Homo sapiens: one gene and its partners. The protein of the gene in region 3 purifies or fractionates together with the protein of the main gene of each other region. This does not show direct contact. Each region holds a gene or a part of one and is shown on either strand. Other genes may lie near its edges.

The links.
Region 1: the proteins of TUBGCP3 (region 3) and LGALS3BP purify together in Homo sapiens (affinity purification with mass spectrometry; 5 studies listed by BioGRID and IntAct, with this or other methods). This does not show direct contact.
Region 2: the proteins of TUBGCP3 (region 3) and MZT2B purify together in Homo sapiens (affinity purification with mass spectrometry; 5 studies listed by BioGRID and IntAct, with this or other methods). This does not show direct contact.
Region 4: the proteins of TUBGCP3 (region 3) and NEDD1 purify together in Homo sapiens (affinity purification with mass spectrometry; 3 studies listed by BioGRID and IntAct, with this or other methods). This does not show direct contact.

What each region holds. Positions count from the first base shown.
Region 1 is NC_000017.11:78,976,924-78,983,997, reverse strand, and holds the start of LGALS3BP (galectin-3-binding protein precursor), read left to right. Parts: upstream 1-4,074; 5' UTR 4,075-4,174; intron 4,175-6,783; 5' UTR 6,784-6,806; coding exon 6,807-6,858; intron 6,859-7,074.
Region 2 is NC_000002.12:130,178,343-130,185,267, reverse strand, and holds the start of MZT2B (mitotic-spindle organizing protein 2B), read right to left. Parts: upstream 3,007-6,925; 5' UTR 2,986-3,006; coding exon 2,816-2,985; intron 2,642-2,815; coding exon 2,493-2,641; intron 1,482-2,492; coding exon of another isoform or gene 1,302-1,481; intron 1-1,301. Other genes in the region: SMPD4 (sphingomyelin phosphodiesterase 4), read left to right, coding at 3,667-3,972. UniProt on the Homo sapiens protein: Required for the recruitment and the assembly of the gamma-tubulin ring complex (gTuRC) at the centrosome.
Region 3 is NC_000013.11:112,585,149-112,593,003, forward strand, and holds the start of TUBGCP3 (gamma-tubulin complex component 3), read right to left. Parts: upstream 3,006-7,855; 5' UTR 2,833-3,005; coding exon 2,757-2,832; intron 2,274-2,756; exon of another isoform or gene 2,082-2,273; intron 1-2,081. UniProt on the Homo sapiens protein: Component of the gamma-tubulin ring complex (gTuRC) which mediates microtubule nucleation.
Region 4 is NC_000012.12:96,945,243-96,952,265, forward strand, and holds part of NEDD1 (protein NEDD1), read left to right. Parts: intron 1-450; coding exon 451-607; intron 608-6,189; coding exon 6,190-6,256; intron 6,257-6,706; coding exon 6,707-6,811; 3' UTR 6,812-7,023. UniProt on the Homo sapiens protein: Required for mitosis progression. Promotes the nucleation of microtubules from the spindle.

The DNA of each region.
Region 1 (7,074 bases), on a different chromosome or scaffold from region 3:
TCGCACCACTGCACTCCAGCCTGGGCGACAGAACGAGACTCTGTCTCAAAAAAAAGAAAAAAAAAAAAAGATAATGAAAAGCAAGCTTTTCATTAAAAATAAAAGTGCAAATCATATATCTGCTACAGGAACAGAATATATATAAAGAACTTACACAACAAACAAGCCAGTTTTCAAACGTGCATAAGATTTGAACAGACGCTTTGCCAAAGAGGATGTGTGAATGACAGAGAAGCATAAAGATGCTCAACATCATTCGTCTTTTTTTTTTTTTTCTGTTTTTTTGAGACGGAGTTTCACTCTTGTTGCCCAGGCTGGAGTGCAATGGCACGATCTCGGCTCACTGCAACCTCTGCCTTCCAGGTTCTAGTGATTCTCCTGCCTCAGCCTGCCAAGTAGCTGGGATTACAGGCATGCGCCACCACGCCCGGCTAATTTTTTTGTATTTTTTAGTTGAGATGGGGTTTCTCCATGTTGATCAGGCTAGTCTCAAACTCCTGACCTCAGGTGATCTGCCCACCTCAGCTTCCCAAAGTGCTGGGATTACAGGCGTGAGCCACAGCACCCGGCCTATCATTCGTCATTATAACCACAATGAAACTTCACTACATGCCCACCAGAATGGATGAAATTTAAAGACTGACAATACCAAGTATTGGTGACGATTTAAACCACTGGAACATGAAGAAATTACTAGCAAGAATGCAAAATGTTTCAGCAACTTTGGAAAACAGTTTCTTTTCTTTTTTTTTTTTTTGAGACGGCATCTCGCTCTGTTGCCCAGGCTGGAGTACCGTGGTGTGATCTCGGCTCACTGCAACCTCTGCCTCCTGGGTTCAAGCGATTCTCCTGCCTCAGCCTCCCGAATAGCTGGGATTACAGGCGCCTACCACCATGTTTGGCTAATTTTTGTATTTTTTTGTAGACACGGGGTTTCACCATCTTGACCAGGCTGGTCTTGAACTCCTGACCTCGTGATCTACCCACCTCAGCCTCCTGAAGTGCTGGGTAGTTTCTTAAAAAGGTAAACATATATCTACCATATGACCCAGTAATCCTGCTCCTAGGTATTTACACAAAATAAATACTTATTTTCACACAAAGACTTGTATCCAAATGTTTCCAGCAGCTTTATGCATAATAGTGGAAGATGGAATGACCCAAATGTCCATCAGTGCAAACATGTATTAACAGTGGTGTTCTGTCCATACAGTGGGCCGCCACCCAGCAAAACCAGGAGCCAGTTACTGATTGTTGAGATAGCATGGATGGATCTCAGAAGCACTGTGGTAAGTAAAAGAAGCCACATGCAAAATATTAAATACTGTATGATTCCATTTAGAGGGAATTCTAGGGTCCAGGAGTGGTGCCTCATGCCTGTAATCCCAGCACTTTGGGAGGCAGAGGCAGGCGGATCACCTGAGTTCAGGGGTTCGAGGCCAGCCTGGCCAATGTGGAGAAACCCCTTCTCTACTAAAAATACAAAAATTAGCTGGGCGTGGTGGTGGGCGCACCTGTAATCCCAGCTACTCGGGAGGCCGAGGCAGGAGAATCACTTGGACCTGAGAGGCAGAGATTGCAGTGAGCCGAGATTGTTCCACTGCACTCCAGCCTGGGCAATGGAGGGAGACTGTGTCTTAAAAAAGAAGACAAAATAGAGGGAATTCTAGGAAAGGCAACCAGCAGTGGCAGAAGCTGAGAGGTGGTTGCTGGGAAGGGGCTGGGGGGAGGGGTGGCTGCAGAGGGGCATAAGAGAATTCTTAGGGGTGATTGAAACGCCCTAGGTAATGATTGTTGTCATGATACCATCGCTACACATTTGCCAAAACTTTGCACGTAAATTATATGCCAAGAAAGCCAATTTTTAAAAAGAAGGAAAGGATGGGTTTGAAACCCCAGTTCTTCCCCTACCAGCTGCACAACTTTAGCCGATTACGTCGCCTCACTGAGCCTCTGTTTTCTCATCTGTAACAGGGAATATAAGAGCAGCTGCTTCCCATCATGGCTGGAAGTATTAAATGCATTCATTTGTGGCAAGGCTTATAGTAATGCCTGGCGAAATCCATATTAGCTATTATAGGGAGCGTTCCTCAATTTGCGGAGAGGTTTGGGGTAGAGGCACAAAAGATGACCTTACAGGCCAGTTAACCATTCTCATCTCTGAAATGCCCCGCACTTTCCCTACCATGTCTTGGGAGCGGCTTCCTGATGACAGCAGTTCTGTCCACACGAATCTGAGGCTTTCACCCAGCTGTCTTCTCAGAGCCGAGCCGCTGCCCCTTCCCCTGCCTGTCCCCTGTCAGCGCTTCCCTCCACCCCATGGTCATCGCACACCGGAAAGGCCTTGCGAGCCCCAGGGGAGCAGATGTTGGTGCTCCGATTCCACGAGGAGGCCTCTGGGTTTTCCATTTTACCTGCCTGGATGGCTTAGGACTTTCCCGGACTCTGGGGCTAAAGATTCGGCACCTGAGTTTTAAAACCTTTCCCAGCACTTCCCAGAGATGCCCTCCCGTCCTCTGCACTCCTGTCCTTCCCTGGCCACTTGGGCAGAAGTCATTAGCACTGCTGAGAAGGGATGATGCTGGGGTTTCTGTGCACTCAGGCCCTTAATCCAGATGAGATTTTTTTAAACTCCCCACAGCCAGTTCTATTTCCAGCTGCACCTGCCCCTGGATCTTCACAGTTCCTCTGGAGGGGATTAGGCAAACCGTGCAGCTGCCTAAAACCTCACACCTTGAAGGAAATAGTCATTGAATGTCTGACCTCTGGGCTGGCTGTCTCGGACTCTAAGCTGCCAGGGAACCAGGGCCTTCCACCCAGTGGGACTGCCTGGGGGCTTTTAAATGCCCCTGCCTGTCCCCTACTCCCAGAGATGGTGACTTCCTGGGTCTAGGCATTAGGAGTTTGTAAAACTCCCTGATGATTCTTCTGTCCAGCCCAGGCTGAGAACCACTGGTCAGAGGCCTGGGCACATCCCAAGGCTCATCCAGAACCATGGGGTGCAAGTGACAGAAACAAGAGCGGCTGCTGATTGCCTCACTGAGCGGTGAAGCCCAGCCTTGACCATGGATTAGGCCAGCTGGACCCAGGAGCTCAGGCCGGAGGATGCCTGCTTCCCTCTGCTCTGCCCCACCGGCCCCAGCAGCCTGGGCCCACATCCTCTCAGTCAGAAGCTGGCTCTCACCGGCTGGCTGGGCTCACAGCCCCACCCTGAAACCAGCAGTGTGGCCCGGGGCCCCCGCAGGGCTCAGACAGCCAGGCCTTGGGTGGTTGAAGGCCAAGAGCTGGGGGCCCTCTGGGAACCACACAGCCGGGAATGGGAGGGGGTGCTCCCCAAGGGACAGTTGAGGTGCCGGCTTTCAGTGGGAGGAAAGGGAATGGGTATGAGCTGGACAGAGCCATTATGTCACCCAGAGAGGCTCTGTCCCCCGCCCCGCTGAGGGGGAGACAGTAGGAGAGTGGCCACAGGTCCAGCAGTGGCGAGCACAGGCTCTGGGGTCAGGTGTTGGAGCAGGGTCCAGCTCCTCCACTGGCCAGCTGCATACCTGGTTCTCAGTGCCTCCCTCCCCTGGGGACAGGGGACAGTGCCATGCAACCTTGTGGGGCACAGGCCCTCTGTGTGGTCAGCATGCCAAGAGCACAGAGAGGGTGGATTTGCACATAAGCAGCCCCCTGTGTGGTGTTCACCCAGCCAGCAACGTGCTAGACCCAGGAAAAGACTCGGAGCGCTCTGTCAGAGTCCACAGCCACACCACCAGGTGCAGACTGTCTGGGCCCAGAGCCTCTGCTTCTTCCCCTCCCGTCCACCAAACGCCAGCCCCTGACCAGCCTGGCGGCCTTTCCAACTGAGTGTGGCTGTTAGTCCTCTTGCAGGCCTTGCTCCAGCCAGACTCCCACCTTGGGCCTCTGCCAGCCTGGCACTGATAGCCACAGGCAGAGCTGAGACAAAAGAGAGGGGCCCTGGGGAGTATCAGCAGCAGCCAATCCCGGAAGACATCTATGTCAGGTGGTTTCTGGAAATCGAAAGTAGACTCTTTTCTGAAGCATTTCCTGGGATCAGCCTGACCACGCTCCATACTGGGAGAGGCTTCTGGGTCAAAGGACCAGTCTGCAGAGGGATCCTGTGGCTGGAAGCGAGGAGGCTCCACACGGCCGTTGCAGCTACCGCAGCCAGGTAAGCTCCTGCCTCTAGCTCTCAGGTGGGCACCCCTCTCAGTCTCTCTCTCTTTTTTATTTTTATTTTTTTTGAGACAGGGTCTCACTCTGTCACCCAGGCTGGAGTACAGTGATGCAATGTCCGCTCACTGCAGCCTCTGCCTCCTGGGTTCAAACGATTCTCCTGCCTCGGCCTCCCAAGTAGCTGGGATTACAGGCGCGTGCCACCACGCCCAGCTAATTTTTGTATTTTTAGTAGAGACAGGGTTTCGCCATCTTGGCCAGGCTGGTCTCAAACTCCTGACCTCTGGTGATCCACCCGCCTCGGCCTCCCAAAGTGTAGGGATTACAGGTGTGAGCCACCGCGCCCGGCCAGGGCACCCCTCTCTCTACACAGGCAAGTGGGGGTCATGCCTCCCTGTTTGCACATAGGCCTGGAGCTGGGGATCCAGGGCTCCTGAGTCCAGCAACAATCATTGCTGCTCCCAGGCCCACAGGGCCTCTGTGTACAGTTGGGCAGATTACTCACTGCACAAGGATACCAGCCAAAGGGCAAGTGGGTTAGAATTCAGCTTGGCCCTCTCTCAGACCTGTGCATTTGGCCTAGGCCTGCACCCACTCCAAGGAAGAGCACCTTTTTTTCTGATTTGCACGAAGGGGCCAACACAGGCAGCCGGGTCTCAACTGTATGAAGGAATCAGGCAAAAATAGCCGCTGCCACACAAAGGGCAGCGACGCCACCTGCCAGGTGCTTCGTTGCCCCCCCCCCTTTTTTTTTTGAGACAGAGTCTTGCTCTGTCACCCAGGCTGGAGTGCAGCGGCTCACTACAATCTCTGCCTGCCGGATTCAAGCAATTCTGTTGCCTCAGCCTCCTGAGTAGCTGGGACTACAGGTGCACACCACCATGCCCAGCTTATTATTATTATTATTTTGTATTTTTAGTAGAGCCGGGGTTTCACCATGTTGGCCAGGCTGGTCTTGAACTCCTGACCTCAAGTGATCCACCTGCCCCAGCCTCCCAAAGTTCTGGGATTACAGGCGTGAGCCATCGCGCCTGGCCAGTTGGCCATTTTTCCAAGGCCCTGAGTTACTCTCCCAGGACGGACAAACCTAGTGGCTGCAGCAGAGTGAAGTGGCTGGGGGCAGAAGTGGAGAGGGCGTCCACCCATACCGGCGTGCCTGGGACTGAGGGGTTTCCCAGGACACAGGGAAACTTCAGTGCTAAAACCAGCACAGTCCCCAGCACACAGGACAGGCGGTCACACCCTGGCCCCTTTAGCCATCTACTGACATTGACACAGGGAGGAGAGGTGGGCTCCCCCGAGCAGACCCCCTGCCTGTGGCTCACTGACTGTGGATGTGGAGCCCATTTGCCTCTCTGGGTGTCAGCTCATTCACTTGTAAGGTGAGGTGTAACTAAGGTGGTTCTCAGGGTCACGGTAAGGCCTCCAGTGGTGCCCGGGGAGCCCCGACAAGGGGTGGCTGCACAGTGCCAGCGAGCACGAGTCCCAGAGCAAAGCTGCTCACCAGCCAGTGCACCCAGCTCCCAGGGCGCTTGTTCATGCAGACTCCCATGCAGAGGGGCTAGGGCAAGGCCAGCCATGACTGCATTTCCGACAAGCTCTGGGGATGCCATTGCAGCCGTCCACCAGGCCCCCTCCAAGCAGCCTCAAGGTCACCAGGCCCAGACTCCCAGCCGGTGCCCACAGCAGTGCCACCCAGAGGCCTGCCCCAGGCTTGCTGAACTGAGGGGACAGTGTCAGGTATCACAGGATTCTTACCGAGCCAGAGAAACCATAACTGTCTCTCCATTGGCAGGGTGTGGGGGAGGGAGGCAGACGAAGACAAAAGCGTGGAAATTACACGGAGGCAAGAACACCAGGCCAGAAGGTGGAGACCCGGACCTCCCCAGTCCTGGCCTGAGTGTCAGTGTCTTGGGGATACTTCAGCATTTCCTCCCTGTTCTTCCCCCAGCCTGGCCCACCCTGGGCTGCAGCCCTGACCCTTTTCATCTATCTTCCCCATCGGAACACCACGGAGCCCCGATATATCTCCCTGCCACTTATCTCTGTCACCCCTCGCCCGGATTCTGTGCCCTCTCCTGACGAGTCCCCTCCCATCCACTCTCCAGGCTGCAGCCTCGTCTCTGCCTGCTGAGACCCTCTGGGACAGTCCCTGCAGGGGTCTGTTGCCTGAAGCTTAAGGCCGAGATCTTAACCAGGCTCACCCGGCCTCCCGACCTGGGCCCACGCCTGTGGCCTCCTCCATCTCCCCGCCCATGCCCGTGTGGCAGCCTTGCCCGGGGCCTGGTTTTTTGAGATGAGCTCACTTGCCTCTAGTCACCAATTCTTGCTGCCCTTACTGCCAGGGGGTGCCCCCAGCCCACGCTTCATCTAGCCAAGTGTTACACATCCTTCCAGGACCACACTGCAGACCAGGTGAGGGGCCCCCGCGGGGGCATCCACAGCACACGTCACACTTACTGGGATCATAGTGGGCTCTGCAAGAGAGGGACCCCGCCTGCCACACAGCCCAGGTTGGGCTGAAGGGTGAATGGGCAGGCCAGTCCCTGGGGCCTCGGGCCATCTGGCTCCCGTGCCTCACCCCTCCGCTTCTGTCTGCTGCAGGATCTGGGCATCCAGGCACGGCCATGACCCCTCCGAGGCTCTTCTGGGTGTGGCTGCTGGTTGCAGGAACCCAAGGTGAGCTGAGCCCCTGGGAAATACCAAAAGCAGAAGTGTGGAAGGCTGGTGCACCCTGGGGCTGCTCAGAGCTTCAAGGAGATATTCTGCCTGGGGCCCGGGGCCCAGCGGTTAGCCAGATCTTCTCTCCTGCTTGAAGCACCAGGTATCCCCAGTGATGATGACTTGGAGGTTCCCGGGGGCTCACCTGGGTTCAGGTGAGATGCAGGTTATAGA
Region 2 (6,925 bases), on a different chromosome or scaffold from region 3:
GTGATCTCGGCTCACTGTAAGCTCCACCTCCCAAGTTCACGCCATTCTTCTGCCTCAGCCTCCCGAGTAGCTGGGACTACAGGCACCTGCCACCACGCCCAGCTAATTTTTTTTGTATTTTTAGTAGAGACGGGGTTTCACCGTGTTAGCCGGGATGGTCTCAATCTCCTGACCTCGAGATCCGCCCGCCTCGGCCTCCCAAAGTGCTGGGATTACAGGCGTGAGCCACCGCGCCCAGCCCTGCCTGGCTAGTTTTTGTATTTTTTGTAGAGATGGGGTCTTGCTATGTTGCCCAGGCTGGTCTTGAACTCCTGAGCTCAAGGGATCCACCTGCCTTGACTTCCCAAAGTGCTGGGATTACAGGTGTGAGCCACCACACTGGTCTCGCTGGTGGTTTTCCTCACTGCCTCTCACTGGGCTCTGAGTGTGATCATCTCACTTCCCTGCCACACCCTCTGCCCTGAGAGCTAGGCCTGGCTCCCAGAGCCCTGAGTGAGTGCTGAGTGAGCAGCAACATCCCCTGGAGTGACAAGGACTCTGTTCCCAGTTTCTCCCTCCTGCTGGACACTTGCCCCTCAATTGCTCATCTCAGCCTGCAGTGCATACACCCCTACTCCAGGCCTGTCCCTCAGCCCCTCTCCACCCTCCCTTGGGTCCGAGCTCTGGGTGGCAGTGAGGTGGGCGCTGTCAGGAAGTGCACGCAGGAGGTGCAACCAAAGACCCCTGGGCTCTCACAGGACCCTGGCTCTGAGCCCCTGATCACACCTGCTGACACCTGGAAAGTGTGCTAACTCAGGAGTGAGGTGGGCAAGGGGGCTGAGTGCTGGAGTGTGGCCACGGGGCCAGCATATGGCATCTGTGTGGCACTGCCCAGGAGACTCTGGGAAGGTGGGAGTCTCTGTTTCAGCCTCCAGACTTCCTGTCCAGATAAGGGACAACTTCTAAGAGGCCGAGGTGTTTGTCACGCCTGGGGCTGTGCTCTCCAGCACAGCACACCGCACTCTGGCCGGCTGTCTTCCCTTGGAGAGGGGCTCTTTACACTCACCACAGTTCGCCTCTGGGGTGTGGGGGTGTTGGTCCTGTCCCCAGATGCCAGCCCGACTGTGGGGTCTAGAGACTGCCACACTATGTCTCTAATAAACCGAGTCAGAAATCGTGCCCTGTGGCTAAGCGGCAGGGCAGCGATGGCCTGCATGGTCCTGCCCTTGGAGCTCAAAGCTGCTTGGGCCTCCTGGGGCCAGGCAGTTTCCATGGAAACAAGGGAGAGCACCAACCCCCAGAGATAAGCCAATAAACGCAACCTGCAAAAGGAGAGAACAGGCAGCAAGAGAGGCGGAGGGAACCCGGGGGGCCTGGAGAGAGAGGCGAGTGTGTGGCAGCCGGGCTGTGGAGCAGAACCGGAGAGGCCGCAGGCTGCGGGCTGGAGGAAAAGGAGGGCCTTGCAGGGGGGCTACTGTTCCTGGCAGAGAGAAAGGAGGCCTCTGGAGGTCAGAGAGAGACACAAAGAGAGCAGACAGAGCGAAGGTCAGTGAAGAGGCCAGCACGCAGGTGCCCGGGCCCTCTTGGGTCAGCGGGTGTGGGTGCCCAGGCCCTGGCACTCCCCCCATGAAGGCAGCCTGCTCTCCACGCCTTCTCAGGATGCCTGTGCGGGTCTCCTCGTGCTTCCAGGCAGGGAGCCAGCTCTGGGCCTTCTTCCATTGGCCTAGGAGGTTGTGCTGCATTTCAGAGAGAGCCATCGGGAGCAGAAGCAACATGCGGAGAGGATGAGCAGGGACAGAGGCTCCACCATGACACTCTCAGTCCCAGAATCTCCTCAGCCCAGTCACCACACTGGAGAGGGAGGAGGCCCTTCAGACCCCGCAGGCCTCTGCACCCTGGGAGTTCCGCGTCTGACTCTCTTCCTGCAGTCATCAGAGGGAAAGCTGACCAGGACTGGCCAAGCCCCTGCGCAGGAACTGGGCCCAGGTGGGGTAAAGGCAGGAAGACCTCTGCCTGCCCTGGTCCCTGGGCACTTCCCTGGATGCTGTATACCACAGGACAGAGATCGAGACTGTCTTTTGAAAAACATTTAGAGACAGGATCTCACCCTGTCACCCAGAGTGGTCTAAAACTCATGGCCTCAAACGATCCTCCCGCCCTGGGGTCCCAAAGATTATAGGCGTGAGCCAGGGCGCCCAGCCCCAAACTGTCTTGATTCCCGACGTTGTAGGATGAAGGCCTGAGTGAAGAGGTGGAGGGGAGCTAAGCGGAGGAGCCCTACCCAGCCTGGACCACCCTGGGGTACGCACTCTGCGTCCACCTGACCTGGACGTGCCTCCTAAGGCTGGCAGCGAAGCCCAGGAGCAGAGCCCACGGATGGGCCCTGCAGGTGCTGGGCCTAGACCGACAGACAGGCCTGGCCACTCAGGGCCACGCCGCCGCTGTGCCGCGCCTGCCCCCTCCCCGCCCGCCACCCCCGCCACTGGGGCAGGGACAGCGGGCCCAGCTCTGACCTCGGGTCTCGGGCACGCTCGACGTGGGCAGAGACACGGCCGCAGGGTCCTGGGGCTCGCTCGCTAGCCTCTGCCCGGCACACATGGACTTGAGCATCTGGAAGACGGCGAGGGGGGCCACGTTCAGCTTCAGCAGGTCCACCAGGATCCTGGCGGGGACAGACGCGGGGCCGGTGAGCCCTCTCCGCCCGGCGCGGCCACCTCCCTGAAGACCCGACAAGGACGGGGGCGGGGGCTCCTCCCGACCAGCGGGCCGGGCGTACCCGGAAAGCAGAGGTCGGGGGGTGTCTGGCTAGCATGCGGCCCCCACCCGCCCCGCTCACTTGAACACGTCGGGGTCGATAGCGCCGCCCGCCGCCTGCGCCAGCTCGTACAGCTCCATCTCCTCGGTGCTCAGCACCTTCTTCCGCCGCAGCGCCAGCTTCTGCCGGGCCGCCTCCAGCCCCGGGGGCGCCGCCGACCCCGGCCCAGGCCCTACGCCCTGCGCCGCCATCCCCGCGGCCCGCGGAAAGGTGCGCTCCGCCCCGCCGCGCCCCCTAGCGGCTGCGCCCACCACCCTCTCCCTGCAGCGTCAACGTCTGGCCTCCCGGGCTGCCCTGGCGGGAGGGGCGGGAGCGCGGGGACGGGGCCGCCTCCGCGGCGTCATTGAAGCCCAACAGTTATTGGGCGCTCACGGTGTGCTGAGCGGCGCTCTAGGAGCCGGGAGTGGCATGGCGGACCGCAGGGGTCCGCTGCTTGGCGATCTGGGCCTCCCTGATAGACTGCATTGGTCGTGCTCGCTTAGGTGGCAGCACCCAGCCCAGTGCCAGGCATACATTGGGCGCTCGGTAAATGCCTCTTTCAAGAAAGCGTGCAATTTTCTGGTCCGCACCGGTGCACCACTAGGGGTCGCTTTTCGGGGCGGGCGGGGGGAAGGGGGGGGCACTAATCAACAATACTGCTTACGCGCACGCGGATTCCTTGCTGGGGAGAAAGTACCTTGGGGCGCCGGAGGCCGCCACAACGCAGGCGCATTCAGCTAAGGACCACTCCCTCCCCCGCACTCCTGCCTCGCCATTTCTCTTCCCCGCCCGGCCGGCCTTCGCTTTGCGCACGCGCCTTTTGAGGTAACGGCCCAAAGAGGTGGAAGCGCTTTTCCCGCCCGGCCGCGGGGCGTGGCTCTGCGCGCAGCTTGATGACGACTTTCGGCGCCGTGGCGGAATGGCGGCTTCCATCTCTGAGGCGAGCGACGCTATGGATCCCACAGGTGAGTGGCGCGGGATGCGCGCCTGAGACGGTCCGGCGCCCTGGGGGCTTCCCCGAGCCCCTGCGGAGGCCATCTCCGTTCCTCCGCGAGCCCCAGGACTCGGGCCGGCCAGCCGGCTCTGCCCAGGCAGGGCAGGCTGGGGAGTGGAGGGCCCCGGTTGAGTCTTCTGCCACCCCTCTGGGCCATGCCTTTGTGCCACCTTCCCGCGCGGCTCGTACACTCTGTCCCGGTCCGGTAGGTGTTCGCTGAAGGTTAACCTTCGTTGAAGGAATTGAGGGAAGGAGAGCTTTGTGTTGAAGTTGAGCCTTGGGCTCAACAGGCGGTGTGGGTGTAAGAGCCGGGTGTGGGTCCCAGCTCGACCCTTCCCCTGTGTGCTCCACATCTCCGAGCCTTGGTTTTGGAGGCTCCCGAAGCCCAATTGGCAGGAGAGTTGGGAACAAGTGGGCGCGTGCTGTTAAGGGAGGTCTTGGCATGACAGAATTTGCTTGGAATGATTAGCGTTGCCCAAGGGCTGTCGCTGTCAGAAAAACAAAACAAAACAAAAAACAAACGGGGTCCGAAGCAGCTCCTGGAGAAAATAGGTGTTGGAGAGTCGCCATGAAGTGGACTCTAGGTGCATGGCACGCAGAGACCTGTGACGGGGGAGGGTGGCCATGGCAGAGTCAGATAACAGGGGTGTGGGAGACACCTCTTGGGAATTCTCGGGTTTGAATTTCCTTTCTTGGAAATTTCCTAGAAATTCCTCTGGGCCTCATTCTTTCAGTCGCTGCCCATGAAAGCTTCTTCTGAGCAGAGATGCTCTCCCCTTCATCGTCTCTAGAGCTCCGCACTTACCGAACAGTCCACAGTTTAATGCTGCTTTGATCATTTTGTAGTAGTGCAGCGTTTTCTTGACCAAGTGCCTTAGGACTGAGGCGTTTTTCTTTAACACTGCAGTTGATAGCTAGGTTAAGAATTGAGGCCGGGAGCGGTGACTCACGCCTGTAATCCCAGCACTTTGGGAGGCCCAGGCGGGTGGATCACGAGGTCAGGAGTTCAAGACCAGCCTGGCCAAGATGGTGAAACCTCGTCTCTAGTAAAAAATACAAAAATTAGCCGGGCGTGGTAGCGGGCGCCTGTAATCCCAGCCACTTGGGAGGCTGAGTAAGAGAATTGCTTGCACCCGCGAGGCGGAGGTTGCAGTGAGCTGAGATCGCGCCACTGCACTCCAGCCTGTGCGACAGAGCCCAGAGCGAGACTCCGTCTGAAAAAAGAAAAAGAGAAAGCTGGCCGGGCGCAGTGGCTCACGCTTGTAATCCTAGCACTTTGGGAGGCTGAGGCGGGCGGATCACGAGGTCAGGAGATCGAGACCATCCTGGCTAACACGTGAAACCCTGTCTACTAAAAATACAAAAAACAATTAGCCGGGCGTGGTGGCGGGCGCCTGTAATCCCAGCTACTAGGGAGGCTGAGGCAGGAGAATGGCGTGAACCCGGGAGGCGGAGCTTGCAGTGAGCCCAGATCGCGCCACTGCACTCCACTCTGGGCGACAGAGCGAGACCATCTCAAAAAAAAAAAAAGGAGAAAAAAGAAAAAGCGGCCGGGCATGGTGACTCACGTCTGTAATCTCTGCACTTTGGGAGGCCGAGGAGGGCTGATCACGAGGTCAGGAGTTTGAGACCAGTCTGGCCAACATAGTGAAACCCCATCTCTACTAAAAATACAAAAATTAACTGGATGTGGTGGCATGTGCCTGTAATTCCAGCTACTCGGGAGGCTGAGGCAGGAGAATTGCTTGAACCAGGGAGTCGGAAGTTGCAGTGAGCCGAGATCATGCCATTGGACTCCAGCTTGGCAACGGAGCGAGACTCCATCTCAAAAAAGAATTGAAAAAGTCGGCACTTTGGGAGGCTGAGGCAGCGGATCACTTGAGGCCAGGAATTTGAGACCAGCCTGGCCAGCATAGGGAAACCCGCCTCTACTAAAAATAGAAAAATTAGGCAGCCTGTGGTGGCAGGCCCCTGTAATCCCAGCTACTCGGGAGGCTGAGGCACGAGAACCGTTTGAACTTTGGAGGTGGAGGTTGCAGTGAGATGATGGAGTGAGACTCAGTCAAAAAAAGAAAAAAGAGGCTGGGCGCGGTGGGTCATGCCTGTAAGCCCATCACTTTGGGAGGCCGAGGCAGGCGGATCACGAGGTCAGGAGATCGAGACCATCCTGGCTAATACAGTGAAACCCCGTCTCTACTAAAAATACAAAAAAATTAGCCGGGTGTGGTGGCCAGTGCCTGTGGTCCCAGCTACTCGGGAGGCTGAGGCAGGAGAATGGCGTGAACCCAAGCGGAGCTTGCAGTGAGCCAAGATAGCGCCACAGGACTCTAGCCTGGGCAACAGAGCGAGACTCTGTCTCAAAAAAAAAAAAAAAAAAAGAATTGAAAAAACTTGGGAGATGTTCCTATTGCCGAGAGGCAGAGATTCCTGTCTCCTCTCACTCTACAGCTGCCTACATGGCCTCTTTACACCCAGCCTCTCTTCCTCCACAGACTGCCAGGTGTCACCCCAGTGCCTTTACTTGTGCAGTGGGCAGAGCTGGGCCATGAAAACTGTAACTAGCCCACCAGTGGGACTTGGCAGACTTCCTGTCTGTGAAGTCTAGGTCTGAGCATTTTTCATTTCTGACCTGGGTGAGCTGAGAGGTAGGATTCTGGAAAGCTGATCTTAGTTTTCTTTCTTTTTTTTTCTTTTTTTTTTTCCATTTTTTGAGAGTTTCCCTCTATCACCCCGGCTAGAGTGCAATGGTGTGATCTTGGCTCACTGCAACCTCCGCCTCCTGGGCTCAAGCATTTCTCATGCCTCAGCCTCCCGAGTTGCTGGGACTACAGGTGCCCGCCACCACACCCAGCTAATTTTTATATTTTTAGTAGAGATGGGGTTTTGCCACGTTGGCCAGACTGGTCTCAAACTCCTGGCCTCAAGTGATCTGCCCACCGCGGCCTCCCAAAGTGCTGGGATTACAGGTGTGAGCCATGGTGCCCGGCCTTTGATCCTAGTTTTCTCATGGCTTATTCAAAGGCTCCCTTGGCAGAGCTTGCTCTTCCCCTCCGTTCATTGCATAGTGCACAGGTAATATGGAGGGGATTTGCCCCTGTCTCAGTTTTGTGAGGTGGTGTTTGTATTGGAATCTTGGTTCTGCCACTTACTAGCTGGGT
Region 3 (7,855 bases):
AAAAATGTATTACAAAAGCATAAGGCCAATTGTAATATGTCATCAAAGAATAAGGTAATTAATCAAATATTCTATGGAGTTACCAGATAAAATGCTCACTAATCAAATTTTTAACACCAAATATTGTAAAGGTAGTAATTAATATTGCTCCTTTGCTCACTAAGGTATAACAAATGAAAGAACAAGGTAAGCTACTATTTATAAATTCTTCAGTAAATAGCAGCATAATTTAAAATTATATCATAAATGCTTGACAATCCTAGCTATCTAGAACATAGCAAAAAGAGCATCACCTTTAATGGACTTCATGACATAATTTATTCAGAGAGGGCCGGGCGCAGTGGCTCGTGCCTGTAATCCCAGCACTTTGGGAGGCCAAGCGGCAGGGGGGTGGGGTGCAGATCACTTGAGGTCAGGAGTTGGAGACCAGCCTGGCCACATGGTGAAACCCCATCTCTACTAAAAACACAAAAATTAGCCAGGAGTGCTGGCATACACCTGTAATCCCAACTACTTGGGGGGCTGATGCAGGAGAATCACTTGAAGGAGGCAGAGGTTGCAGTGAGCCCAGATCATGCCACTGCACTCCAGCCTAGGTGACAGAGCAAGACTCCATCTCAAATAAATAAATAAATAAATTATTTATTCAGAGAGGACCCTGTCAGGATCTGAGAGCCCACTTTTAGACACAGTTCTAAATGGGAAGATAGTAGGATACAGAATTTTGCTGAAAAGAAGCTTTTCAGTCTCTTAGAAGGGACAAAACTTTTATATCAAAGAATCTTCAATGTAAAAAAAAAAAAGTTTTTGGCTGGGCGCGGTGGCTCACACCTCTAATCCCAGCACTTCGGGAGGCCGAGGCGGGTGCATCACGAGGTCAGGAGATCGAAACCATCCTGGCTAACACAGTGAAACCCCGTCTCTACTAAAAATACAAAAAATGAGCCAGGCGTGGTGGCGGGCGCCTGTAGTCCCAGCTACTCGGGAGGCTGAGGCAGGAGAATGGCATGAACCCGGAAGGTAGAGCTTGGCAGTGAGCCGAGATCACACCACTGCACTCCAGCCTGGGCGACCAGAGTGAGACTCTGTCTCAAAAAAAAAAAAAAGTTCTTAGGTTGAGAAATATCATTCTAGCTCATGATGAATGAATTTCAAAATCCAATTATAACAATGGGAATGTATGAATGTGTGGTTTATCCCTAGAAAAAAAAACTCTGGAACCACTGGTATAAGGAAAACACTGACATTAAGGTGGGTAAGTCCTAACAATCTTAGTTTTATCTGATTCCCCCTATGACGAGGAACATGAAACATGTGAAAGGAAACTCAGTCTGCTAATGACAAAAACAAACGATGGCAGGCCATGCTCATACCTCAAGACCTTTCCACTGGTTCTCTCTACTCAGAACCTTCCCCAGATGTTCAAATGGCCCTCCCTTACTCCATTCAGGTCTCTTTAAATATCTCAGAGGCTTTCCCTCACCTGCCTCTTCCCTCTCTATTCCTTTACCCTACTTTTTCGCCACAGTACTTATTGCTAATTAACATGGCTGGTTTATCATCTGTCTCTTCCAGTAGAGTGTCTGTCAGATCTGTGGGAGGAATGACTTGTGCATCTGCATCACCAGCACTTAGCACAGTTCCCGGGGGGAACTTTGAGGACGGGGTTGTCCTCAAAGATTTCTTAGATAAATAAAGTGATAGAATCAAACTTTACAAGATGCAGCAAGAACTGTGTGAAGTCACTCATTTAATAGCGACACAAAATTATTCATGATTGCCCCAAGATTATCATAGAACATCCAATGAATTATGTACAGTAATTGTCATGAAGCATGAAAGGTCAAAATGCATTCTCAGTACTTTAAATGTAACTTTGAAGTCTTCCTTCAAAAATTGAGTAACTTCTTTTCCACATTTTGGTGCTTAAGATGTAACTCAGTTGCTTCCATTACTCAGAAAATTCCCTCATGGTGCATCCTCACTCTCTGCCCCACCAACCTGGCCAAAACAAGGAGCAAGAAATGGCATCCTGTACCATTTCTTTCAAAGTACCTCGACTACAAAATGGTTTTACCTACCGTATAGGATTAGTTTTGCTTATTAGTAACAATATTCGCCATGTGAACTTTCCCAGAATAGTTTTATATCAAATCCAACCTTCAACCCTTTAAACAGTAGGAAAACACGGCAGTTACAGTCGTTAACACCCTCTTCCCATAATACTCAAGCCTGTTAAACTTTCCTAACGAAAAGGGACGATGATGTGACACTCCAGCACCCCGCATCCACCTCCGCGGCGCAGCCGCTCTCTCCACCCCACAGGATGAACCCAAAGGCGCGCAGAGGCGCCCTCCCACGGCGCGTGACACCAGAGAAGGGGGATAAATTGGCGAGCTGGCATTCCTCCCGTCCTCACTGACGGACCCGCGAGCGGAGTGAGCGGTGACTCAGCCCGCTCCGGCTCGGCTCCGCCCTCCCGCCTCCCGCCCCGGCGTTCTCGCCCCGGCCTTGGCCTCTCCACTCCCTCCGCCCCGGTCCTGGCCCCCAGCCCTCCGCTGTCCTCCCCGGCTCCCTGACCCTCGAACCCCAGCCCTCCGCTCCCTCGTCCGGGCCCCACGTCCTCGGCCCGTCCCCCAGCCCTCTGCCCGGCCCTGCATCCTCGTTCCTCCAGCCCCGGAACGTATTAGGGCTGCACGCGCAGGGAGCAGCCCCCGGGACGGGTCTGCGGGCTTCGCGTCGCCCGGCCACTCTACCTTCGCTCCTGCCCAGGATCCTGCAGCACAGGTTCTGCAGCAGAACGTTCGGCGACTTCTGGTCCGGGGTCGCCATCCTCGCCCGGAGCCGTGCACGGTGGTCCGGGCAGAGCCGCCACTGCCGCCGCACGCGCAGGGACCGCGGCCCGCGCCCTTCCTGCGCCCCGCAAGCTCCCTGCTCCTGACAGGCTAAGGCGCGGGCGCCGCCGGCCACCAGGGCGCCATTTTAACGGAACCCGCCGAAAGCGCGGGCGCTTCCCACAATGCCCCGCTTCTTCCCTGCGCCGCGGCCGCGCGTGCGGCTGCCTAAGCGTTCCCGGCCCTGTCTGGTGCATTCCCCCTGCTGCTGCCCGGTCGGCCGAGAAAGTTCCGGGCGACAGGTGGCCCGAGGCCCTCGAGCTGCGCGGACAGAGCGGCCCCGGAGTCGCGAGCGTGACGGGCTTGCTTGGAGGGCACTTGGTGGCCGGTAGCACCATAAAGGCCATAATTTGGTGTGTGGGTGTGGGGGTGTGTGTGTTAACGGCATTGGTTTGATTCACACTTCTGATGAAAGAAGCCTGTTTAAAAAAGAAAAGAAAAAAGAAGCCTGTTTAAAGGGTGCAGGGTGTTACGATTGTTAACGTGCAGTGGGCAGTTCACCTGCTACGCTATCCAACAGGCGCCCTGCTCAGGCCCGACCTCGCACTGCCGCGCGGGCCGGTCCCCCCCGGCCCGGGTAACTGGGACGTCCTGGGAAAATAAATTAATCACGTACGGAGTGAGAGAACAGGAAACCTGCCGAGAAAAAGATCGATAAGCAGACAATTACACCAAGCCAACTTCAGTGCAATCGTTAAAGCTTACACATGGGTGCACGCTTGGGAGCCGTGAGCTACCATGTTAAAAGGCCAACTTCCTAAGGAAAAATGATGGAAAGAGATCCCGAGATCCTATGAAATGGAAGAGGGAGGACAACCCAGCTATCCCAACATCCCAGCTGAGGCCAGCCACACACGTGACTGTCTGCAAAGCCCGTCGGGCCTGGGTCCAGCTCAGGTTGCAGAATTGTTGGCAAGTAAAACGTTTGTTGTCGTTCTGACTCAAAAACATGGAGACAAAGCAGACTTGTAGGGTATTACAGTCAACAACTAGACCCTACAGCTAAAGGACTGTCTCCTTGCATGATGCAACAACCATCACAGCTCTGCAAGAGCAACCAAACCACCAAGGATGCGATCACCCCTCACTGCCTTCGATACGCATTCTGTGGAAACGCTTCTAAACTTGCATCACACTCAACACGATCAGTTAGTAACTGGCTTCTCATGAAGTTATTCTCTCAGCCGCATACTACAATGTCCAGATGTCATCTAAATCCTGCCACCCTCTCCCCCACCTTCAGCTGAAACGCTGCATGACTGCATCATCTTACCTGACCAGCTCTCTCCTAGGACAGACATGCAAGAACCCCCCTCACTAACGCTGATGTTATTTGGTTTACAGATGGCTCTTACTTAAAGATGCAGCTGGAAGGTATTACACTGGTTATGCCATAGCGTCTTTGCCCAAAGAAATAGAAAGTGCTTGTCTTCCAGGAGCAATCATCTCAACAAGCAAAGTTAATAGCATTAATTAGAGCCTGTCAGTTGGCAAAAGGAATAACTGCTAATCTTTATACCAATAGCAGGTATGCTTATAGAGTAGCTCATAACTTTGGAATGCTATGGAGACAAAGGATTTTTAACCTTTTCTAGTCAGCCCACAAAAAAATGGGTGCCTTGTTTCAGAATTATGGCAAGCCATACTATTGCCAAAATCATTAGCCATTATCAAGATTCCAGGCCATTCAAAGACACTCAAAAAAGCAAGATAAGCCAGTTAGCAGGTAGTATAGCAAACAGGGTGGCCATAAACATATCTGAACAAAAAGATCAAACCATTTTGGCCTTTAAGGAAGTTAGATTTTTATGTAAAATTAGCTCAATCTAAATCTCCAAAAACAGGACGAGAAAATTGGGAAACAAAAGTGGCACATGCGCTTCTGAGACTGATGTACGGTTTGACCAAATGTTCTACTCATACTTCCAACTAAGTTACAACCATCTTTCTTTTTTTTTTTTTCTTTTTCAGATGGAGTCTCGCTCTGTTGCCCAGGCTGGAGTGCAATGGCGTGAACTCCACCTCCTGGGTTCACGCAATTCTCCTGCCTCAGCCTCTTGACTAGCTGGGACTACAGGCACCCGCCACCATGCCGGGCTAATTTTTTGTATTTTTAGTAGAGACGGGGTTACACTCTGTTAGCCAGAATGGTCTCGATCTCCTGACCTCGTGATGTGCCCGCCTCGGCCTCCCAAAGTGCTGGGATTACAGGCGTGAGCCACCGCGCCCGGTCCAGCCATCTTTCTTAACGTGCATACACGATGTGACTCACTGGAGCCCTGATAAGATTATTGATTTCTTGAGGAGAACAATGTTGTCGGAAACCTTCTCCAACTGTTGCTCACGGGTATACAGTCAGGGCTGTCTTCCCAGAATATAATGCAAGGAAACCTTGACCCAGTTCTCCATGTCATTTTCCTTTACCAGAAGGCCCTTTCGAGGTATGGCAACTAGATTTTTTCAGCTACCACCATCACAAAGATACAGGCACATCCTAGTGATGGTTTGTGTATTTTCTCATGGGTAGAAGCATTTCCATGCAGAAGAGCAGCAGCCTTGGCGGTAAGTAAAATTATCTTAGAGAAAATTATTCCGATTTGGGGAGTTCCTCAAGAACTTTATAGCAACAGAGGCACTCATTTCACTGCACAAATAATCCAGTTAGTATGCAAAATCTGGCCCATTTTCCAGCATTTCCATTGTGCCTATCACCCCAGTCATCTGGGTTAGTAGAATGCACAAGCAGAATAATCAAAACTCATTTGGCAAAATTAACTGAAGTTTTAAAACTCCCTTGACTGGAAGCTCTTTCTTGTTTTTGCTTCACCTAAGATCAGCCCTTATGGGTAAACACCAACTGTCTTCATCTGAAATTATAACGGACAGACCTATGAAATTGTCTCCAGGAAATTGTAAATCGATGATATTAAAAAGGGACAGGTTGTATTATTGCAGCAGCCTCATAAGGCACCTAAGTAAAAACTGTTATTTAGTAAAAGATTCTTTCCACAGTGAGCTCCAAGAAGCAAAAACTCAAGGAACACATACTTCAGCCAGGAGACTTTGTAGGAAACAGCATCCTTTAAAGGACTTTCTCCACCAAGGAGGAAGGAACCTTATCAGGGACTCCTAACCAACCCTTGTGCCACTAAGCTTAAAGGAGTTGATTCCTGGATACCTGCCACCCATGCAAGGAAAGCTGCTTTGTCAATTTGGACTTCATCTCAAATTGGTGATCTAAAACTAAAACTCTCCAGAACCAACAAGGATGAGAAGAAAACAACATGTGAGGCGATCAGCCTTCTCAAGACACCTGACCAGGCCTGTATCTAGACAAACCCTTAATATAATCATCGTCAGTAGATGAGGAAGGTCTTCCTTTACAAGTTCCCACCACACTTCCTTCTTTTTGTCCCTAGTTCTTCTGTTTTGTTGCTACCATCACCAGCCATTGCCCATGAAACAAACATCTTCTTGCAGTAGGCTTGGGCCTGTGCTAGTAAATTACAGGACAACACTCGTTAGGTGTGTGGCCTTGCGCCCCTTTCTGGTGGTTCTGGCCTACCATGGTGGCAGCTCCTCTTCAAGGACAAGAGTAGACAGAATATCAGAAATGTGTCTGTGTTTCTCAGGACAGTCATTGGTGCTTAGCACTAGTATGATGAAGGCAAGTGTGCATCACTGGCCTATGAATGATACTTTACAAAGCAAAAGCCATAGGAAGAGCTTTCCAGTAAAAGTCCACATACCTTAATGCTGGTACTACACCAGCTGAGAGATTAGACCACTCAATATCGGGATGGCATAACACAAACTTGGGATGGTTTCACCTGACTTACCCTCTCTTTGGGTCAACTTAGTTCACGTGCCCCTTTACATTGGGAACAAAAGAATCATATCAAAGATCCCTGGCCCAGGAGCACTGGAGATACGGGATGGAACCCAGAGAACAGTGCATCTACACCATTGTGTTACAGAGTCCTGGCTGGCATGCCACTGAGTGGGCATAGTGACCGGGTGTTTACTGGTTGGCTCCAGATGGAACATCTGGACTCTGTGATAATGACCTATGGCCATGGTTACCCCCAAGGTGGCCAGGACACCATTCTCTGCATTATGCCTGGACATAGGATGGAATAGTTCACAACCGACATAGATAGTAGATAAAACTAGGTAGTCTGAATAATTCAAAGTATGGACTTTGATTCATAATGCTTCAATACTGGTTCTTAAATGTAACAAACAACACACTTTTAATCTGTGCATTGTGAGGTGCTGAGCGAGAGGGGCCGGCTGCCAGGTGCCGGGTGGTGGGTGGGTCAAAGGCCAAACGCAGGTTCCACCAGGCAGGTGTCACTCCCGGCAGGAGTAGAAACCAGAGGCCTCACTGAGAGTGCCAGCCCCCACCCTGGTGTTTCATTTTCCCCCACGGCACTGGGTGAAGGTTAGGTGTGTCTGTGAAGACAGCAGTGAAGGGATACTGTCTCACTGCCCAGAGAGCCCCTAACAAAAGGTTTCTGCCATTCTATGGCCCTGGAGTCAGGGGAAGAGAGAGAGGGAGGCAGCTGAGAGTGGAAAAGTGCTGAATGCAAAGTCAGAGTGGGAAAAATGTCTTCCAGGCCCCCTGAAAAGGAGGCTTTGGCAGAGGTACCTAAGACAGGCCTCAGCCAAGGGACCCATGTGGTCTCGGAAGGGAGGTGCCTGGGTTGGGCACAGGGGATACCCAGGGCACCCAGGTCCTTCCCCGCAACAGCCTTCAGACACGGCAGTGCACTGGCCACACACCATGAGGCAGCCAGGTGGGGCCTTTGTCATCACCCGTGGTCAGACCTGAAAGATCCCACAGGGCATTTGGGCTGCAGCCAGCCAACTTTCCAGGCAGCATGTTGCATTCCAACTCTGTTTCAATAAAACTAGTTTCGAAAAAGAAAGAAACATTTCAAAATATTGACGGGATGCTG
Region 4 (7,023 bases), on a different chromosome or scaffold from region 3:
CTCATATAAATATCTATATTTTGCTTGAAGTTTTCTGTGGATATATATTGCATTAGCTTAAACTCTAAGGCTTTTCCTGTAGCAGTACTTTACTCCTATTTTCCTTCGGTTTGTTTTTAATAGTCTTGGTTTATCTAGTTTATGGTGCAGCTTGTCACATTCATCTTTTATAAGAGGAAATGGTTCATAGATTCTTCAAGATTAATCCCTCTGTCATGTGGTATTACATTAGACAGCTGGCAGTTTATATATATAGATAAATGACTATTAGAAATAATGTTATAGAAAGTTTCTAAGATTTGTATTCCAGACAGTGAATTTTTCTAAATGTCACAGGAACACTCTTCTTTGCCAGTTTTTCAAGTTTGCACATGCCAAATCTTATTTAGAAATGTTTGATGTCTCTCAGTCCAAGTTGACTATTAATATTTTCTTCATTCTTTATTTTAGATCCAAAGATAGCATCTTCTGTCACTGCTGGAGTTGCCAGTTCACTCTCAGAAAAAATAGCCGACAGCATTGGAAATAACCGGCAAAATGCACCATTGACTTCCATTCAAATTCGTTTTATTCAGAACATGATACAGGAAACGTTGGATGACTTTAGGTAGTAATTGAGAAACTACTCCTTCTATCTAGACCTTACTTGTTTTTTTTTTAGATGTAAAACCAGAACTATAGATAATGTTGTTGGTTACTATTGTCTAGGTTCTGGTAATCCTAAAGCCATAGAAAACATAATGAGTTTTGTTGATCTTTTCGTACTGCATTTATTGATTATGAGCCAGGAAAAGGCACATTTACCTAGGGCAATTATTAGGTAACTCAGCAGGGCAGTCTAGCAGGTAGACTGCCATTGTGAACTTTTTTTATTATTAAAATGTGGACAAGTTCTGGTAAGCTTAAATTGGGTTCTTAACCTGCAGTATGTTCATAGATCTATTAGGTATGCTGTGTGCAATAATGTAGTAGAAAAAGATACTTTAAAGCACAATTCTGAATGTTTTCCAATAGAATGCATCAGAATGTAATACTTAATCTAAAAAAAATTCTTTCTCAGACTTATCCTTGTCTGTCTCATCCTTCGAATTGTGAACATTCTAAGAATGTGTTCTACAATGCTGCTTTCTTTTATCATCTCAATATTTTTGGAAGCTATCTTCAATTATTAAAATCATTGGTGCCTTTTTTCCTTTCTAACCTATAGTTAATGTTGTAGCTCAGATTTGGATTACCGTAAGCAAGAATGTTGGAGAAAATGTGCAGTTTTTGTTGGTGCATGCTTCCTTTTAATGTTTTAAAATACTTTTAAAATATATTTTTAAATGTCGAAAAATACTTTTTAAAGAAAAATTGTAATTTTGGCATTTACCCTACCTAGTATATGTACCAGATACTAAGGATACATCAAATGATCTGCCACAAAGGCCTTGTGATGTAGTTGGGCTAGGTGCAGTGTGTTCTGCCATGTGTGTTTCTCTTAATGTGAATTAATTCATTTGGGATCAGTAGAATAGAACACTGTTGACAATATGATGAGGAAATTTTGTTTGTTCGTGTAATAGCAGCCAAAATAAAGTACACCTGAACACAGCTGAATGCAGCAAACCCCGTCAGCATCCATCTCTTTTTATTCACTTCCTCTTGGCTTGGCTGTGTGGTCTGTTAGAAGTACTTATTTTGTGATTATTTCCCATCTTTGGGCATTTTGCTCTTGCCTCTGTAACTTGATAGCCGCAATCCTTCTATCCTCTTCCATTAAGTGACCATCACTTCTTCACAGTAAGGGTATTATTCAATAATTATCTATTAGATTTTTACTATGTCTTTTTAACTATGTTAGTATTTTTATTAGGATTTAATTGTTTTTGTTGTGCTCTGGTTACAAAGTTGCATAGGTTTTTGAGTGCTTTGCCCTAATCCTTTTTCCCTAAGTTCTGTTATTTTTAATACACAGTGTTAAAGAATATACGTTTTTTTCAGGAGTGCATAAATATTTATGGCATAATAGTAGAACTGTCTGGATACAGCTGACTATAATACAGTGTGAGCAAAGTGATGTTGAAATCACAGAAAGGGAGCAGTTCTTCTGTGGGGGCAGATTTAGAAAGGTACACTGAAGAGATTTTATTTTATACTGATGTGTGTGGGAACAGCTTGAGCAGAGACATGATCATACATTCTAGGAATGTTTGCAGAGAGAAGGCACCGTGGTAAGAGACCAGGCCTGAGGGACAGTTGTGAAGGTCTTAACACACAGGTAATGGAGAGCCATCAGAGTTTTTAAGCACAGGAGTAATGGGTGCTGTCTATTTATTACCCATTTATTCAACAAGCATTTGGGTGTCAGTTCACCACTGGCTTCAGATGATTTGAGGACAGTGGGCTCAGGGCCTTTCCTTCAGCAGACCCAGGGATCTGAGTGCTGGAGCAACTCTGAAATCGCTGTGCATTTCTGCCCTGCTGCCAGCTTTCGGGGTGGCTGGAGCTTGTTTTTCACTATCTAACCTGTTCCTGGCTTTCTGTGCCTCAGGAGAAGTGTGTCTGTCCCACTTTCAGCCCTGCAGAGCTGCTGCAGCACGTTTGGTGAAGACGTACAGTCAGTGCCTCTTGGTTTTGCTGCCCTGTGCTGCATGTCTGCACCTAGGAGTGGTGGGTAGGGACTTCTCTCAGCTCTTCTGCCCTTTGACCATAGGCAGCCTCTGCCTGGGACGCAGTGAAGACCCAGAGTGGCTCAGAGGATTTCCATAAATTCACTTGTTTTGCCATTTGCCTAGGTGTTCATCAGACTAGGTGTTCATCTACACCTATCATTGGCAGGACAGAGAGGGTATTGAGGACCTCTTTCTCAGCCATCCTCCCGTGGCTGCCATCTTCTCCATGAGAGCCTGGAGTGCCTTAGAGGGGTTACTCTCAGTTCTTCTCTGCTGCCCTAAGGTTTCACCAGGCTCTGTGCATCTGTATCTTAGGGAGTCTCCCTCAGCCCTCCTGTTACACTTGTCCCTACTTTTTTTACATGAGCGCTGAATGAAGGCTTGTGGGAAAAAGTTGGTGAGTAAATTGAGACTCTCCTTGTGGCTGGGACCCCTTGGAATTCTAAACTATCAAGCAGTGTTTACTTGGCTTTTAAAAATCTTATTAAAATTTCAGCTAGTTCTTTTTACTCTGTCAAGGGCATGAAGATGGGTCTCTTTTCTCCTAGTCATGGGTCTCTTTTCTCCTAAGAGGAACTCCTCATTTTCTGGATTTTAGTTCATTTAGATTTCTTTCCATTCTCAGCTCTCGGTTGAATTTAAAATAATATGATTTTATAGGTTATCAGGTTTGTTTTCGTTATTAGAGTTGAGAAATTATACTTTTGCACCAACCTAATACATCCTAAGTGGAAATCTGTGCATCTGTTTCTGTTGTCTATTAAGAAGATTTAAGTTTCTTTTGGCAAGCAGATCCCTTTGATCCTTTGGTTACTAGGTTCAGGTTTTCTTAGCACTAGTTTGTTTCCAGTTTGCCTTTATTCCTAGTGTGTAGTCTTTTCTAGGACATCAGCTGAATGTCTGGAGTATTCACTGTCTTTTTTACCTTGGTGGGTCCCAAACTTCAGCCTCTATTTTGCCAGCATCACAAGACTTCCAGAATACTTTCTCTGCTCTTTAGTTACTTGTTTTTTGGTTGGTTTCCTGCCATCTAACCCAGGGGGAGCATTGCTTAGAAGTCAACAGATGTCTTGAGGGGAAATTCCACAGTTTCAGGCTTAGTTTTCTGCAGGCCTCCTCTCTTCAAGACCTTGGCTCTTACAGCCTTGGCTACCTTGGTAGGCCCAAACTCTTAATACTCCCCCACCCAGCGAGACTATCTCAACCTCCAGGCCACTGCTTCAGCTCGGTTTCTTCTCCACACTGTGGAATCAGCACATACTCTAGAAGGAAAAACAGAGGTAAATGAAGAGCTTACCTAGTAGTCTTTCGTTTGCAAGATCATGGCCCTTCAAGTCCTGGCTACCTCAATGGTTCCCTGATACAGTGTTTTTGTTTGTTTTCAATACAGTTTTTACTATAATTGAAAGTAGAAGAGGAAATTTTTAAAAATACCCTCATAGTTAGAACAGAAAAACAATAAGTTACTTGGGAATAAATCTACCAAAGGTAGTGAAGATTTTTGTAGAAAAACATTAAAAATTTTTTTTGTTTAAAAGCATTAACATTTAAATAAATGGAGAGATTATAAAGATATTAGTTCACCTAAATAGGTCAGTAGATTGAATGCAATTCCAATTAAAATCCCAGCTGGGATTTGGAAGAAGATGATGAAGTGATTCCAAAATATGTATGGAAGGAAAAAAATCTAAGAATAACTAAGACATTTCAGAGAAGAATAAGGTTGAAGGGGACTTATTTGTCAGATGAATACACTTAATTATTAAAGTATAATTAAGATATATAGCATGGCACAGGGATGACATACTGGCCAAAGGAATGAAATAAGCTGGAAAGAAACCTATGCATATATGGAAATAATAGAGAGGTAGCATTGCAGATTTATGTGCAAAAAATGGAATAATCAGTAAGTTGTGTTGTGACATTTGTTTTTTCCTGTAAAAAATAAGTATAGATTCCATGCAATTGAGAAAAATCAGTTCCATGTAGATTAAAAGTTGACTTTATAAAAGTTTATAACTTCATGGTAGGAAATCATTAAAAATAAAATAATGCACTGCCTATAAAAATACATTGGTAAATTTGACTGCATTATTAGTATATTTGAGCACATTAATAAGAACTATTTATCACACAATATCACAGAGTGAAGGGATAAGAAGATACCTGCAGTTCTCATATAAATAACAAAGGATCAGATTATGTAAAGAATGCTTATAAATGAATAAGAAAAAGATATGAAAAAGCATTTCAAGGAAGAGGAATGGTATATGAACACAGGAAAGATATTCAACTTCACAATTAATCAGAGAACTAAAAATGCAATGAGATACCGTGTCACACCGAGTAAATGGGAAAATATAAAAAATCTGGTAATACTAAGTCTTGATGATATAGAGCAAGAAGAACTCTGTTATACTGGTGACATCCATTGATAACTACCTTTGGAAAACAATTTGCATGATTTTGTAAAAGTATACACTTGAGTTACAGTTGGTTATATCATCAATGGACATTGGCACATGTGGGTTTGGAGATAATACATGATTGTTTATAACAACGTTGGAATAGTAAAAACTTGAAAACAGTCAAAATATTAACAGGAAAATAGATACACCAGTACAAACTAATGATATACAGATATATAAAACATGAATCTTCAAAACAATATTGAATTATTTCTTAAATATAAGCTATATGGTACCCTTTTTTGTAATGCTCAAAAACATGCACAATGAAAACATTGACTACAGATTATATGTTATACAAATGTATTAAAAAAGCAAAAGCATTTCTTTGTCCAACAAAATTCAGGAGAGTAATGACTTCTTTCTTGGGCTTTTTCCCAAGAGTTAAGTGATAGAATCAGACAGGAACACACAGGAAGCTTCTATTATTTGGTAATGTTCTAGTTCATAAGTTGTGTGGTGGGTGACTGAGTGTTTCTTTTGTTATTATACTTAATAATTTTTACATATTCTTTTGTAGGCATGAATTAATTGTATTTTATTGAGTAAGCCATGCTATATCCACCCAAATTGCCACTTTATACTGAAAGTACATTTTTTCAATAGCTAAACTGATAATAATAAAATGATCTTTCTAACCTAGTGAATTTTCTGTATTTCATTGTAAGATAAGTTTGTGTCTTAATGACAATTTCTATATAAAGGAATATAGTATCGGAGAGTTCAGGGGTTAAACAGCCTGGGTTTACATCCTAGCTCCATCATTTACTGGTTGTGTGACTTTGAACAAGTTATATCTACTCTGGTTAAGTTATTTCTTTTGTAAAATGGACCTGTAATAATTGCATCTACTTGTGAAGATATTTTAAACGAGTTCTTACATTTAAAGTAAAGGAAACAGTGCCTAGCACATAGTGAATAAATGCTCAGTGCATTGGTATTTTTATTATTATAGTAATTATTAACATTCAGTAATTTGGCAAATGAAAAAGTTTAGTGAGTTTCTTGAATGACCTAGAATTGGTTAAACTATTGTAATTCTAAAAAGTATTTTACATTCTTCCTAGAGAAGCATGCCATAGGGACATTGTGAATTTGCAAGTGGAGATGATTAAACAGTTTCATATGCAACTGGTATGTATGGCAAATTTTATTTTAATATTTTAAATGAAAGTAGAGTTGTGTGAATTTTTAAAAATCCATGAAAGGTAATATATTTTAGTTGTTTTGTTTAGTTTCTAAGATAAATAGGGAGTTTTATAGACTAAATAAGTAAAATAGATTTTAACTGGTCACCTCCTTTTTAACCTCTGAGATACTTAAGCCTTCTTTTTTCCATGGCTTTCTTCCTGATAAGTAAGCAAAAAGCATTTTAAATGTGCAAATATAAATTTTCCAAATATACTAATTTCACCAACGATCTTCCATTTATATTAACAAACTAGTAAGTTGTTAAGTACAAGAAATATCATTCACCTAGTTAATTGAACATGAGAGAAATGATAGCTGAAAGTATATTAAACATAGCCTGCCAAATAAATGTGAAATATCAATAATTTAAAAAGCATTTTCCTGTTTTTCTAGAATGAAATGCATTCTTTGCTGGAAAGATACTCAGTGAATGAAGGTTTAGTGGCTGAAATTGAAAGACTACGAGAAGAAAACAAAAGATTACGGGCCCACTTTTGAAATTTCAGTGAATACCTTAATGTTCTGTAATTTGGGAAGTTTCTGGCAACACAGAACTACATAGAATCAGTATTGTTTTCATGGCCTCCAGGGAAAAAATGTTTTTCAAGTAAGAGTAAAAGGATGATGGGATTTTATACCAACAACTGTTTCATCTTAAAAATATGTATATTTTTATATTAAAAATTGTACAGTATGTCATCTACCCAATA